2 separate regions of the Homo sapiens genome follow, and region 2 is linked to region 1. A link means that fine-mapping ties the variant in region 1 to the expression of a gene that starts in the linked region. Tissue or cell type: whole blood. Region 1 holds a variant in brackets; the other region holds the start of a gene. All regions are shown on one strand. Distances are between the middles of the regions.

Region 1 (8,108 bases):
TGTACCTGGCCCATGGTCTAGGACATGGGGGATGATGGGAGGAAAGGAGAGAAGTGAGAGAGGTGGTGGGATTTGTGGCCTTGCTCTCAGCATGTGGAGTGGAAAGAATAGTGGATTTTGAGTGAGACAGATCATATCTTAAATCATAATTGTGTGAGTTATGTCCAAATTGCTCGGGAATTCATCCTTCTGAGCGTCAATTTTACCATGTATGTATGGGGTTAATATTAATTCCTTTTTTGTATGGTGGTGAGGAATAAAGGCATTGTTTGTGAGAGAAGTGCACAGTGACATCGGTCAACAACTAGTAGATATTTATTTTCCTTTAGGATCAGCTCCAGGTTCCTTGTGGCACCAATCCTCACTCCACCTCCTATTGAGAATGTTGCTGTTGTTGGTCAGGTTTAGCACTTTCTTTGGGGCACTATTCAGAAATCACACACACATGAGTGTGATCCTCTTTGATTTCATTTATCAGGAGTTGTAACACAGGTCTGAAATGAATTGCTTCAGTGGTTACCAGGCATGACCAGTTTCCTCTCCTCTCTTTGTCCTTTCTGGTTCCAGGAAGAAATTTGAAACCTGAACAAACCTCTAATCATTAAAGAATTTAAAATGGTAATTAAATTTCTCCTTTTATAAAAGAAAACAAGTTAAGAGGTTTTCACTTGGTAATTAAATCTCTTCTTTTAAAATGGGAAATAATATGAAATGTATTCATTTTTTACCAAACCTACAAGAAAGACAATTTCTATCCCAAATGATTTCAGAGACTAAAAGAAGGGAAAGCACGGATGGAAACTTTTGTGGTGCTTATCTTTGATATTGTGTGTTTATATCATAATCAGAGTTTAAGAAACTAGACTCTTTTTTCTTATGAGAATACATGGGAAAATCCAAAATGTTGGGATTTTTTGTCAGTGTTGAATTTTTTGAAGTTGATAACTGTACTGTGGTTATATAAAGGTGTCCTTATTCATAGCGAATACACACTGAAGTATTCATGGACAGAGGAGCATAATGTATACAACTTATTCTCAATGGTTGGAATAAAACATTCTATTCTCTCACACACACAAAAGAGAAAGAATGATAAAACAAATGTGGCAAAATGTTAATATTTAGTGAATCTGGGTGAAGGGAATATGGTAGTTCTTTGTACTGTTCTTCCCATTTTTTTCCATACATTTGAAATATTTCAAAGTGACAAGTATAATACATGCTAGGACATTTATTATAATAGTAGGGTATCCCTATAATAAATATAATAAATAAATAAATAAACAGATATGCAAAGATAGTTCAAGAACAGAAAATCTATCAAGGGGATTAAGCAAATTAAAAGTTTAAAGATGACCCAAATGAGTCTCTAAATAGTTTCATAAAAATCATTCTATATTGTATTCTACATTCATGTGTAATAAAAATAGAAACACCCTAGACCAGGAACAAAAGTGAACATAACTAATCTGGTAAAAGGTATTTACCAACAGTCGCAGCAAATATACTCAGTGATGACACTTTAGAAATGGCATCCTTAAAGACAGGTACAAGGGCAGAATTTCTCCCATCTCCATTTTCAGTCAATCTCATATTAGTGATCTTAGGCCAATGCAATAAAATTGGACATAAAAATAAAGAGGTATAAGGATTGGAAAGGGAGAGATAAAATTGTGAGTGTTTACAAATGATATGATTGTCTCAGGATGAAATCCAAGAGAATCAATGGGTAAACTATTCACAACAGCCATAAAATTTATGATTACCTGGAAAAATTATATGATGAAAATAAAATTTTATTAAAAGACTTGAAGAGGCCTTGAATAAATAGAGTGAGACTTATTTTTTTATACTTGGGAAGACTTACTATGGTAAATATTTTGGCTCTTCCAGGTAATTTATAGCATGGATGCAATCATAATAAAAATTCAACAGAGTTTTTAAGGACCTTGTCAAATTGACCCTAAAGTTTACATGGTAGAGTAAAAGCACAGGGATAGCCAAAACAATTCTAAACAAGCAAAACAGAAAAGACTTCTACTGCGAAGCACCAGGTTATAAAAAATATAGATGCAAATTAAAGGAGTATGGTATTGGTCTGGGAGTGAACAAATTGAGTAAGAAAACCTAGTAGAGTGCATCCATCCACATATGAAAACTGGTACAAAATTAATACAGTTTTATGATCAAAAGGGGGATCAATGATATAGGGAACAATTGGCATTCCATATTGGAAAAAAAATCAAACAAAGTCTCTACTTAAACCTTTCACAAAAATAAATTCCAGATGGATTAACGACTTAAATGTGGAAAATACAACTTTAAAAATGTGTTTATAAAATTGGAGATTGTCCTATTTTTAATCAAGATGACACCAGAGACAGTTTATGCTAACTGATGCTTCTATCTGGAGCTCACGCACCATCTGTACAGCAGGCACATCAGTTGCATGAACTGAAGAGTTGACCCTCAGTGGTTCTCTCTCCTTACCCCAGCTTTGGGCACAGGGAATCATGGCTGCTCTTCAGGCCTGGGTAAGAAGCATTATTCCTTAGACAGCCCCTATCAAATTCACCCAAAGCATTCCTTCCTCCTGTCACCTTGTATAGGAGGCCGACTCTGAGCCTTATTTTTCCTGTTTGTAAAATTGGATACTGTACTACCTGCTTTATTCATTGTTATAGGTTTAAATGTGAAAAAGCATGCAAAGCCTTTAGCACAGTGTCCAGCATAAAAAAGATGCTCAGTAATTATTAGCCACAAGTATCAGAATTATCAAAGGGAACATATTTATTAAGTGGGAAAGACAGGATTTAAAAGCTGGTCAGTCTGATTCCAAAGTCTGTGATCTTTTAATGAATGTCACTGAGATCAAGCGAAAGGATATAGGATAATTTGGGAGATGTTAGTCCAGGCTGTGGAATTGGGGGTCTGCATCCTCCTTGTTCTAGAGTTTGATAGGTCATTTTTCTTTCTCCTCTTGGCCTCCCCTGTAGGTTCCAGCATTGCTGACAATTGCCTAATTTCCAATACTCATTCTTTCTCCCAACACTTTAAAATTGTAAAACAAAACATGCATTAGGAAAAGCACATAAAATAAGAGTAAGATTTAATGAACAATTACAAAGCAAACACATGTTCAACCGCCACAGAGGCCATGTTCTTTTTTTAATATGTCTTATCAAGGCCCACAACTTCCTTAGTGACAAGTCATGGCTTCTTTTTTGTTGGTCCTTGAGTAAATGGATGTCTCCCTTTGGGGAGATATGCCAGCCCGTGGGGGAAAAATGTGAGAAACATCTTGGTCTTCAATCCGACACTGTCACAAATCATTTCTTGGGAGGGGA[G/A]GTTTCGAATGCTCCTGCCACCACTGAATTTTCTTGGCTTCTACTTCTGGTTCAGACATTTGCTGCTGTTGCCCCAGATCCCAGCTCTCCCCATCCATGAGTTCTCTAACTCTTCTTTGTACTGTTTTTTTCTGAGGGCAACCACCTTTCTCAGTCTCTCCAGAATTGCTAAGAAGAATCCAACCTGCACAAATGGCAAAATTCGAGCCAAGGGAATTCAAGCCTTCTGGTAAAAGAAGGAGGTGGACACCCAGCCTCTCCCTTGAAGTGCATTGCTGCTCTTAGACCAACAGGGATGACTGGACATGCTGCCCCTCCCATGTTTTTATTCCTTTCTCAGCTTCTCCTTGCCCTGTCTCCACAAGTGATTTTTTTTCTTTTAAATTTTTATTTTTTTCTTTTATTTTTCTTTAGAGATGGGGTCTCGCTATTTTGCCCAGGCTGGTCTTGAAATACTGGGCTCAAACGATCCTCCCACCTTGGCCTCCCAAAGTGCTAGGATTACAGACACCAGAATAGAGATATAATTGCCTCCATTTTCTATGGGAAAATCTTAAGGCACACTCTAGGTTTGCAAATCATGCTAATTCCTTTCCAGCATGCACCAATTTATAACTTGTATGTCTTATTTTGTAGGGGATGACCTTGGTTAGCTGTCTAATTGAGGAAGACCTTAAACATAAATGCACATAGAGGCATTGCTGATTGATAATTTGATTTATGTTCATGGGAGGAAAAACAACATCAAACAAGAGAGCTATGGTTAGGTGCTTATTGTTTATTGATGCTAAGTCTCTTTCTATGTCTTTTAAAACAAGCAATGAGGCTGAATTTTCAGAGAATGCAGATACCTAACAATTGGCCTAAGGGTTGTCCTGCCTAATTTGGTAAAAAAGTGGCAGACAACTGTACATTATTTAGATTTACCAGATGAACATATAAAAAAAACCAAGTAGAAATACTGGAAATAAATGATTATTGAAATAAAAATTCATTACTTACTAGATAGAACTAGCATTCGACCCAGCAATCTCATTACTGGATATATACCCAAACGAATAGAAATTGTTCTACCATGAAGACACATGCGTGCATATATTCATTGCAGCAGTATTCAAAATAGCAAAGACATGGAATTAATCTAGATGCCCATCAATGGTGGACTGGATAAAGAAACTGTGATACATAAACACCATGGAATACTATGCAGGCATAAGAAAGAATGAAATAATGTCCTTTGTAGCAACATGGATGGAGCCGGAGGCCATTATCCTAAGTGAATTAAAGCAGCAACAGAAAAACCAAAAACAGAGTATCACATCATCTCACTTATAAGTGTGAGCTAAACACTGAATACACGTGGACACAAAGAAGAGAACAATAGGCATTGGGGCTTACTTGAGAGTGAAGGGTTCGAGGAGGGTTAGGACTGAAAGAGTACCTATTGGGTATTACCTGGGTGACAAAGTTATCTGTACATCAAATATTAACATGCAATTTACCCATGTTAACAAGCTGCACATGTACCCTTGAACCTAAAATAAAAGTTGGAAAAACATTGGATAAAGTAGAGTTTAGACTGGATGCAGCTGAAAGAAAACTTGGTGAATTTTTAGCCAGTACTGAGAAATTCACCCAGAGCCCAGCACAGAGAGATGAAGAGAAAAATATAAGAGAAAGGCAAAACAACGATAATAAAAATAGAAGGTCTAGTAAATATCCGGTGGAAGTTCCAGAAAGAGACTGGAGAGAATGGCACAGAAGTAATATTCAAAGAGATAAAGAAAGGACTTTTTCTTTTAGGATTAAATTAAGACATGCATCTTCAGACTAAAAGTGCATATTTGGAGTAAAGCAGAATAAATAAAAGGCAAACATGACTCGGCGAGATTTCTGACAATAGTTACTAGTTCATGCTTTTATATGAAGCAAATGGACCAGGAGCCAACTAAACATGAAAACCAAGCCTCATAATGGCCACTGATTGTTCATGTCGATCCCCACATCCTGCTGCACCTATATAAAGTGAATTCTTGAAAAGGTGCAGATGCCCTTCCTTCCCCAACAAAAGGGCATCCTCTGCAATACTCCTCCAAGATGTAGCCATGGAAGGTGACAGGCAAAGGAGAGGCTCCCAGACAGCAGAACTGGATTCTTCAGATTTATTGAGTAAGGAAATCACTCCAACATTAGGTAGGAAGTCCTCACATCCCTGTCTTACAGGATGTACAATCCGTATTACGGGCCAGTGACAATTTGTATATATCTTCCTATATTTCCCTTTTGCAAATAGGACTTTTTATTGCAGTCATTCCGCCCTCAATCTACCATTCTATATTGGGTGCATTTGAAGTGGTTAAATTTACTTAAGCTTATTAAACTTAATCTGTGAAGACTATAAATTTAACTGACAGAACTGCTTTCACCCACATTGCAGAACTGGAGATGAATATAGTACCCAGAGAGACATTTTGTTGTCTTTCTTTGGGAGAGAGGTTGAGTGCATTTTATGTAGATGTTGGTTTAGAAAGTATTTGAAAAAATTTAGTTATGTAGATTTCAGTAACCAAAAGGGGTATACTTTAGAGAACACTCACTGCTATTTTTACCACTGAGCATCCTTTCACCCTTCTGCTGGTAGCTATATCCTAATTTACCCCAGGAGAATCATTCCCTCTCCCACTCTGAAAATTCCACTGGATTTGGGGATGAGTACACATGGTGATGAGTATTGTGGCCTTGGCTTAAACCAATCGGTACATCCCAGTTCCCTGGTCCCAATCATTGGTTTAAAGATTTAATTCTAGCCACTCCTAGTTAGTTGAGTTGCCCAGAAAAAGCCCTTACTAGACATGAATTTGGGAAGATGGGAGGAGATGCCACAGCCATATTATAAATGCTAAGAGGGAGCCTGACTAAGAATGAAGCCAACATGAAGAGAAGTGCCGTGGAGAGAATCTTGTGGGAGCTATAGTTTGAGCCCTTGCTCAAATTGCACCTGAAAATAGCACCTATTCTCCTTGGTTTATTCAGCACTCTCACTTCTTGCATCTTTAAGATCATTTTTTAACTTTCCGCCGAAGGATTATCTGGACAGTGCTACTATCCCAGGCATCTCCAACTCTGGGTTTAGGACTAAAGAAGTCTTGGAGGGACCATAATGAAGCAGTATGTGGCTGAATTCTGAAGACTTGGGTTTGAATCTTACTGTACCTCTGACTTGCTGTGTCATCTTGGGCAAGTGGGCTTACTCTCTGAGGTTCCATTTCCTTTTCTTTAAAATGGGATATAAAAGTGCTTGGTCCACTGTGAAGTTCGGGGTCATGCATGGTGTCTATTCCTAGGCTTTTTATTCAGGAAAGTTGGCTCTCTGGGTCCTGAGAGTCCTCTATAAGGCAAAAACCCAGCTAGAATCTAAGACTTGGGGCCTCTAAAGAGCATCTGTTCCAATGCACTGATCTTACAAATAGGGAAACTGAGGCCCAGAGAAAGGAAGGTTCTACATCAAATTGGACAGAGCTGGGATTCCAGCCCAGTGTCCTGAGTCCAGTATCATCGTCATGCCTCTCTAGCTGACCACAGGGTCCCAGAGGCCAGAAGTGATGCTATCAAGTGTGAGTCTTTCATGGTCTTTCTGGCACTCTGCTCTGTTTGGGCCACAGAGGTGTCCTCATAGTGGTGCTCTCCACTGACCCCAGGCTTAGACACCAAACTCTCCCATAGTAATGATCAACCAGGCATCGTCTGCCATGTCCATCTAAGACCCTACCATCTCCTGATCTGCAACAGGAACGTTTCTCTGAGACTCACTTTTTCTCATCTGTAAACTGACTTGACATTAGTATCTACCAAGTTTTGTGTGACGCTTAAATGTAACAAAACATGCTAAACCAAAGGAGATGGATTCTAGTGATTTGGGGACATCTTTTCCCAAGCTGCTTATAGCTCTGTTCCACAGTTTAATAATCCAGTTTTTCTATTCCCGGTTTTCTTCCATGGGTAGTCATGATGGCAGTTTCTTAATGCCGAGCACTGTTTTTCTTTTTGTTTTACCAGGTCCCTAAAGCATTTCCTCATGACATACCACAGACTTTGTTTCTTTAACCTTAGGTTAACTGGATCCCTTCCTCTAGGGAGACAGACATGCAGTTTTTGAAGGAATAAAGTGCAGAGCCCTGATCTGTACACCAACCATCTCTTGCATGGTAATAAGTATGAAGACACCTGAGATCCACCGTTGTTGGTTAATTTCTCCTGCCAATTCTTTGATGGTGGATGTTTTTCACCCTTGCCCAGATTCTGCTTTACTGCCCTTCACCCATTCACTTGTGGGCCTAAAAGGACAGTTCATATTTCCAGATTTTATTAGGACTATGATGAGCAGTAGGGGAGGAAGTACAAACATTGCAGAATTCAAACTTTCTTGGGTGGGAAAATGATAAGGAGTGGCTAAGCCATCTGTTTCTCTGGAAGGTCTAGGGAGATCCAGTTGCCATGTCCACCACCTGTGGATGACACTTCCAGAGGTGATTTAAATGACCCCACCTCCCTTGCAGTCATCTCTTTCTCATCTACTCTTCCTGTCTCAGCTCGGGGTTTTTTTTTCCCCAATACTCTCCCCACCACACCTACTACATCTCCATACTCCCTGGCTCTGTGTCTCCATTCCCATTTGGTCATTATTGACGTTTTATGTATTTTGTTTAAGACAATATTTTAAGCTAAGTTATAAAGGCAACTATGAAAGTCAGAAAATTGGCT
Region 2 (8,089 bases), 57 kb after region 1:
GGAAAAGGCAGTATAGGCAGCAGTATTTCCATTATGAAGACACCACCTGCCTCAAGATTCCTTTGACTGGTCATCTGGTCTTTCCATCCACAGGTGACATTTTAACCCACTTGCTGTTACTGAAGTTGTGCAGATTTAACATATCACCTTTGGTGTAATTGCATCTCAATGGATACTGTAGGCGTAAGACATTCTTAAGCTAATTGAAGGGATGTGCTACTGTGGAATTGATCACCAGCAGATCAGGGACTTTCCCAGGGCCTGTTGCAATACATTTTCTCTTGTCTTTCTGGGATATTTTTAGTTCCTGGGGTCTTATTAGTACCAGGGTCATGAAAGCCTTTAGTGTTGGCCTCAGGTGGTAGACATGTGACTGGTAGACTAACAGCACCCTATTTTTAGTGTTGGTTTCTATCAATATATCTTGAAATGTGGCTTTGATTACTATTCTCCCTAGTGCTTCAAAAATATCCCTTTATTTTCTTTCAAAACCACTTACATTAGAAATGCCCTCAACCCCTTGAGCCACTAGGAATCCAGAGAAAACAGGAGTCAAAAGCAGATGAAGCAGAAAATGATCTCTTTATTGGAAGTTTGAAGGCGCTTCAGGTTAGGAAAGCCTAATTCAAGGAAGCATGGGCAGGTGGTGTCATCCATGGACCAAGAATCTGAAACTACACGGGAGTCTGCATCTCAGAAACATCACAGAATTCACTGAGGTCAACTGACACCTAGAGAGAAAGAAGAGAATCAGTGATGTGAGTATAGTAAAAAGTGAAGGGTGGGGATGGTAGCTGGGCCCCCTGTCCCCTTCAGCTCCAACTGTACCAGCCCTCTACTACTAGGATACCAGGCCACTAGTTGCCAGCTGGGGCCACTGTTTCTACTGCTTGCCCTCTCTTCAAGTGCAGTGTTACTTACTGCAAAGAGGCAGGGAAGCACCATTACCCCTCTCAGGGCTTCAGTTTTCTTCTCCTGATGTTGTAAACACCCAATTGGCCCATGAGATCCCTCACCATCTCTTGTGTCTCCCTTTCCATCTTCTCTTTCACAACATGAACAAGGATCTTTCTACATATCTCTTTCCTGTATTCTGAGAGGGAGGACTGATAGTCTTTGGGCTTGTGGTCTCTGAAGGAGCATAGATGAACCCTAACAGGGATGCAAGAACATTCACTGGTGTGCAGAAAGAAAACATTAATGGCTGTAATCCTTTATACTATATAGGAAAGAAACTGAGGTTTACTAATCTAAAGTATAAGAACTGACAAGAGTATACCATAAACTTATAAATATGCATATGTAGTCAGTACCTGTTCAAAAAAACCTTTAGCAGGTAGGCATATACAAAAAAATATTATTGAAGAATATTCAATTAAGGATAGGAATTCTAGGACCTCATGATAGGCCAAACATCCTTCTGTGCCACTACCAGACCCTCTCCTCACCAGGGAATGGGGAGGCTCATCTTCCTACCACTTGTTATACAGCACTTCTATTGGTGCGAACAATGGTTATCAATCCCACAAAAGTCCTGGAGAGTCCCCAACAATTCTAAACAATGAGAGAGATATCTCCCCTATTTGCTAAAAAAAAATTACCTTGATATTGGTCCATCCTTTCACATGGTTACCGAATGGTAGGTTTATGTAAATAATGGGTTTCGGTCGTTGTTAAGATGTTGTGCCAAATGACGATCACTGTCATCTTCCTGCTCTATAATTACAATATCCAATCCCCCATGAGATCCATGTTGGTGTCTGCCTTTTTGTTCATGACTGAGTAGGTCTTGTTCTCTATTTGTAGATTGGCCAGACTCTCCTTTTGCATTTTCACCATGCCATGGCTCTTGCTTAGGATTTGGTGCCTGGATTTGAGACTTGCCTGCTACTAGCTTTTCAGTTTGGCTATAAATACTGCGTTGGGATACATCTTTCTGCACACCATTTTCTCCATAGTGGAGTCGTCTTTCTTCCGTACTTGAAGATTGGTATGATATTTTATTTGCCTTTTGGCTATGCTCTTGCTCTTGACTGGGAATTGTTATCTGTTTTTGAGACTTGCCCTGTGCTTTCTCTTCAGTTTGGCTATAAATACTGCTTTGGGATACATCTTTCTGCACACCATTTTCTCCATAGTGGAGTCGTCTTTCTTCTGTACTTGAAGATTGGTATGATATTTTATTTGCCTTTCGGCCATGCTGTTGATCTTGATTGAGATTTTTTGTCTGGTGTTGATTCTTGTTATATACTAGGAGCTCATCTTGGGTAGAAAAAATGTCTTTGGATCCATGTTGGAGTTTGTCTTGGTGCGCAGGACAGAGTGAGGTTTGTACTTTACTTGAATGTTCCTCTCTCACTTCAACCACATTTTGGTAATGCCCTTTATTTTGATGAGAATTTTTAGTCTCACGTTGTTGTTTGTTAGCTACTAGCTCTTCAGTTTGGAGAACATAACTGCTTTGGGATCCGCCTTGTTTTCTACCTTTTTGTGCACCAGAGACGGAAGTTTGTTCTTTACTTAGTCCATGAACCCACAGCCTTTCTTCTGTGTTTGAATATTGACTGGATATTCCCTTTCCAGATGGGCTATTCCCCTGATCTTGAGAAGGATTTTGTGTCCCACGATGAGCTTTGCCTCCTTTATGGTGTATAACTACCCTGTGAAAATGACCTTTTGATTTATCATGGTCTCTGCCTTCTTGTTTATTATGGAGCAGTTGTTGACTTCCACCTAGATGTCGTTGTGATTTTGTCGTCTTATGTAGGGCATTCAAATCATATTGCTGACTTTTTCGGGACTGGTCATGATCATTGGCATCTACATGATATGTGTATTGAATAGAAAAACTGCCTTTGGATTCAGTTTGTTGCTTGCCTTTTTGTCCAGAATAGTGCTGGCCCTTTTGTCCGTGTGGAAATTGGGAAAATTCACTTGGTAATCGGCCTTTTGATCCACCTGGTAATTGATAATAAGAAGGTATGCATTCATTATCTCCAAAGCTCCCTTACAACTCTTACCCCCCACTTTTCCCCCAACAAATTATTGATATTTCTAGAAAAGCTGAAGCTTTGGGTGGAGAAAATCAATTCTCTTCAAAGAGAAGAATCTGTGCCTAAACAGGTTACTGTTTGCACCCCAAATAATCTTAGATTATTAGCTGTCTGAGCAGCTTTCCCCAAGGCTTACCCTCTCCACTCACCTTTTTGTCCCATCACAGCTGCTTGCTTCTCCAAGATGAGGAGCAGGGAAAGTACAAAGATGATGTTGGGCTTCATCTTGCTTGGAAAACCTTGTCTGAGAGCTGAGCCGACCTTGTCATTTATATCTTCCTTGAGTGAGTGTGCCATGGGTGGAGCTTAAATTACAAAAGGCACTGACTTTTCTTAGCTTATCAGTAAATGCCAACTTCCTCACCCCTGCTGAGTGTGGGACAAAGTCAATGTCCCCAGCAACATAATGTCAAAGGCATTTTCTTTCTTCTGGCAGCCCCAGCAAATTTTTATCAGTCCTTTTAGATCATCATGCCAGATCACTTTAATTTTACAGAATTATAGACAAAAGTAGGAAAGAGACTGGCTTCAGGCTACAAAAGCAATTGGTTTCTGAGAATGCCTTTATATTCTAAATGTGAGTTTCCCTTCATGATGCAATAATTTAAATACTCTATTTTAGATAGAACTCCATACTTCCTTTTGTTTTAAAAATGATCTTGAGACACGTTCTATTTTACCTAAGAATGAGCAATCATAGAAGTCCAATGATATAGAAGATAATGAAACGTTATGGAATCCAAAGAAAGAAATTTTAAACAAGTAAATGGGGCACTCCAATGTCAAATATGTCTGTCAAGTTCAACACAATAAAGACTGACATGTATCCAAAGTTTTTCTTAGTTGTTGCTAGTAACTTTAATGAGAGATGAATACAATTGCATTGGGTTGTCAGTTGAAGGATGGAGACCAGCTGCAACCTTCTCAGGAAGTCTGAATTCATGGTGGAGTGAGAGCTGAGGCTGTATCTGGAGGGTGAGGTAAGTTCCAGATGTGTTTTCAAAGGATGAAAGAATTTTAATATGCTTTCATGGTGATAGGAACAACTGTTGGAAAAAAAGTAAAAATGCTGGTTTCTAGATTGGGTTCTTTTCATGAAATCTACCTAAACAGCAGAATTTTCTTTTTAATTAAGAGAAGTTTCTACTTCAGTAGTAAACAGCTGAATCCCCAAACAGGCTGTGAGAAATATTTGCCACCATCAATGAATTGAATAATGTATTGTGAGTGGACATGAAGCTAAAATTCCCACCTTTGGTAGAAGCATAGATTTTTCCAATTGTGATGACATCCTGAAAAGTCTGAAGAAACTTTCTTTACTTTGAGTCATAAAGACTTCGTTATGAGCAGACCACAGGAGAAGAAGAAAGCATCCCAACAGTGTCCCTGTGTACATTCAGAACACCTTGGAGGGTAGTGCTGGGGAAAGGATAGCTTGAAAACTTATTTTCAATTATTCTGTCTTAGAATCTTAACCTTCCTGTAGGCAATGCTCTATGGAAGGGGAAAAGAGAAAGGCCAACCACAGAAAAAAAGTGCTATGCTATCAAACATAAATCATGTGAGCTGCATGGTTTCTCTATGAGCCACTCTGAGATCTTACCAAATTTATCTGTTTGCCTCAAAGGCAGTAAGTAGTTCCTTATTGCAGAAACCCCAACAGAGTAAGGTGATATTGTTCTGAACTAAAATTGATTACTGTGTCTGCTAACCACTGTAATCTTCCTCACACTTCCCTTAAGAAAATACCAGAAACTGTTCTGTTCCAAACTTACTGATACAAAATAGAGTCTGAAATATTAATCTTACTTATGGATCAAGAACAAAACTTTCATCTCATCTAGTGTCCAAAAGATGCAGATAAAACAAAAGGGCACAATATTTGCAAAAACAAACCAGGAAAATGCAATCCAAGCAAAACATGTGATTACTATATTCATATTAGAATTGAATTCAATGAAATGTGGAAAAAAACATTTCCAAATGATAAAGGAATGTATTGATAAAGTTGAAATCAGAAATCAGTGATTTGGAAAGCATAAAAATGGTATGGTGATGCATACATCTTAGATATGGAATTATGATGGGGGAAAAGATTAAGTGATCAAATGATTTGTCCTGTTGGACAAATAAAAAATGCAAAAATATTAAAGTGCACTAAATTGGCACAAAAATCTGAAAGTTTTATACTCATAGGAAAAGAAGAAAACAGGAGGACTTAAATGTATTTTGCTCAATTCTATGGGAAATCACTTTACAACTTAGAAAAGATTCAAATATAGTTATTTTTGGGGAATGGGCAGAAAAACCTGGTAGAGTAGGACTCCCCAGAGATTATACCCTCCAAAACGTCGAATTTAATAATTATCCACATATGATAATAGTTTCTCAAAAGCTAAACAGGCCAGATGAGATATTACAGAACCTGATTATAGTATAATAATTAAAAATACACATTGAAGAGGGCACGAAAGACAATTTTGTTTCCTGTATCACCCCTAACCCAATCACAGGCAGCACAGTGCAGAGAGAGCTACTTTCTTTTGGGGGGAAGGGAATGAAGTAAGGCTTGGACTTTTTCACGGAACAAAATACTAGTCTATAATAGTAAAATTCAGCACTGGGAGGACACCCATAGTGACCCTGCTTGAATACCTGTGGCCTAAGCAGCAAGACCTGCCCCAGCAGCAGAGAGGAACACATAGTTCCTGTGAGATAGACTTGCGTTCTTACCTGTACCACTGGCAGCCAACTACAGCAGCCTTGGATTATGAATAACCAACATACGTAGGCAGGTATCAGTGAGGAGGAGTTGGGAATGCATTCCATCATTGTGCCAGCCTCTGCAGCCATGGGTTACAGCCTGGTGCAGAACTGGCCATGGTGGTCCTGGGTTTATGACATCTCCTTGTGCTGCAATGACTGAAACAGTCACAGGCTTACAAACCTAGAACAGATGATCTGCCTAGAATTTCCGGACAGAGTTGAGGGACATTCTCAGACAAAGCCAAACTGGAGTAAGTACCTACCTTAAATTCAATATCTGCATTCAAGTACCTACCTGCAATTCAATAAGTACCTACTTCTTCAATGTGCAGACATCAATGCACAATCACAAGGATCAAGAACAATCGGGGAAAACTGATGACACCAAATTAACAAAATAAGGTACCAAATGAACAAAATAAGATACCATTGATTGGCCCCAAAGACATGGAGATGTATGACCTGCCTGAAAGAGAATTTAAAATGGCTGTTCTAAGGAAGCTCAAAGAACTTTAATAAAATACAGATAAATAATTAAATGAAATGATGAAAACAATAAGTGACCAGAAAGAGAGATGTAACAAAGGGTAAAAATGATAACATTTAATATCTAATGTTAATATAGGAGCTGAAGAATGCAATGAATAAAATGAAAAGTGTGAAAAGTGCAATAGAGTGCATTAACACCAGAAATGATCAAGCAGAAGGAATAATCTGTGAGCTTGAATACAGGTTATTTGACAATATATACTCAGAAAAGGAAAAAAGAAAAAAGAATAGAATGAAGGAAACTTATGAGATGTATGGAATAGCATTAAGTGAGCAAAGGGACAATTTACTGGCATTCAAGAGAAGTTAGAGAAAGATAAATGGAAAAGTAAAGAAAGCTTATTAAATAAGTAATAACAGAAAACTTTCCAAATCTGAGGAGTTCATATATATATATATATATATATATATATATATATATATACACACACACACACACACACATATATACACCCATATATATACATATACATATATACATATATATTATATATATATGTATGTGTCTATTATATATATATATATGTAGTCAAAGTGCAGGATGGTCAACAGTCACCAATCACATTCAATTCAAAAAAGACTAGACATATAATAATTAAACTGTGAAAGATCAAAGACAAATAAATGATACTGAAGCAGCAAAAGAAAAGAAGCAAATAAAATGCAAAACAGTTCCAATACACTTCACATCAGACCTTTTTTTTCTTTTTCAACTGTTATTTTACATTCAGGGGCCAAGTGTGCAAATTTGTTACCTGGGTATATTGCATGATGCTGAAGCTCGGGGTATGAATTTTCCTGTCATTCTGATACTGACTATAATACCCAACATTTAGTTTTTCAACCCTTGTCCCCTTCCCTCCCTCCTTCTCTCCTCTAGTAGTCTTCAGTGTGTATTATTTCCATCTTTATGTTCATGAGTATCTGACATTTAGCTCCCCTCTATAACTGAGAACATGTGGTATATAGTTTTCTCTTCCTGCATTAATCTACTTAGGATAATGGCCTCCCACTGCATCCATGTTGCTGCAAATGCATGATTTTATTTATTTTTTATGACTGTGTAGTATTCCATGGTGTATATACACCATATTTTCTTTATCCAATCCACCATTGATGGGCACCTAAGTCGATTCCATGTTTTTGCTAGTATGAATAGTGCTGCAATCAAATCATATTTCTCAAAGGGAACATTAAAGATCAGAGGAGAGTGGAATAATATTATCAAAGTAATGAAAAAAAAGAAAACCATCCAAGCATACTATACTCAGCAAAGCTGTTCTTCAGAAATGACAGAGAAATGAAAACTTTCCTAGACATACAAAGGTGAGGAAGTATGTCACCATCAGACCTATTTTACAAGAAATGCTAAAGGAGTTCTTCAAGGTGAAAGAAAAGGATGCTAATGAGTAATACAAAATAATCTAAAAGTGTAGAACTCACTAATAAAATTAATTACACAGTCAAAATTCAGAATACTGTGATACTATAATGGTGATGTATAAATCACTTCTATCTTTAGTATGAAGGCTAAAAGATAAAACTTGAAATTAATAATAACTACAATAAATTGTTAATGTATATGGCACATAAAAGCTGTTAATTGTGACATGAAAATATCAAAATGCGGGGAGGGAAGTGGTGGTAAGGTGTAGTTTTATGTTTTGTAATCAAACAAATTATTATCAGGTTAAAATCACTTGTGATAGCTACAGGATTTT

The links. PIP is the estimated chance that this variant, and not a neighbour inherited with it, causes the effect.
Region 2: SEMG1 starts here. The variant in region 1 is fine-mapped to the expression of SEMG1 in whole blood (TOPMed, PIP above 0.99).

Annotation. Positions count from the first base shown.
Region 1 is chr20:45,259,595-45,267,702 of GRCh38, reverse strand. All of the region lies in intron 2 of LOC105372630 (a long non-coding RNA gene), which reads right to left. Among named protein-coding and RNA genes, the nearest start is that of SLPI, 9.1 kb to the right of the region's middle. The variant G/A (reference allele first, on the strand shown) is at 3,348.
Region 2 is chr20:45,202,243-45,210,331 of GRCh38, reverse strand. It overlaps SEMG1 (semenogelin 1), which reads right to left and starts at 3,299. Exons shown (of 3, transcript NM_003007.5): 1 at 3,203-3,299; 2 at 1,602-2,958; 3 at 564-731. The coding sequence starts at 3,278. The coding sequence ends at 1,646.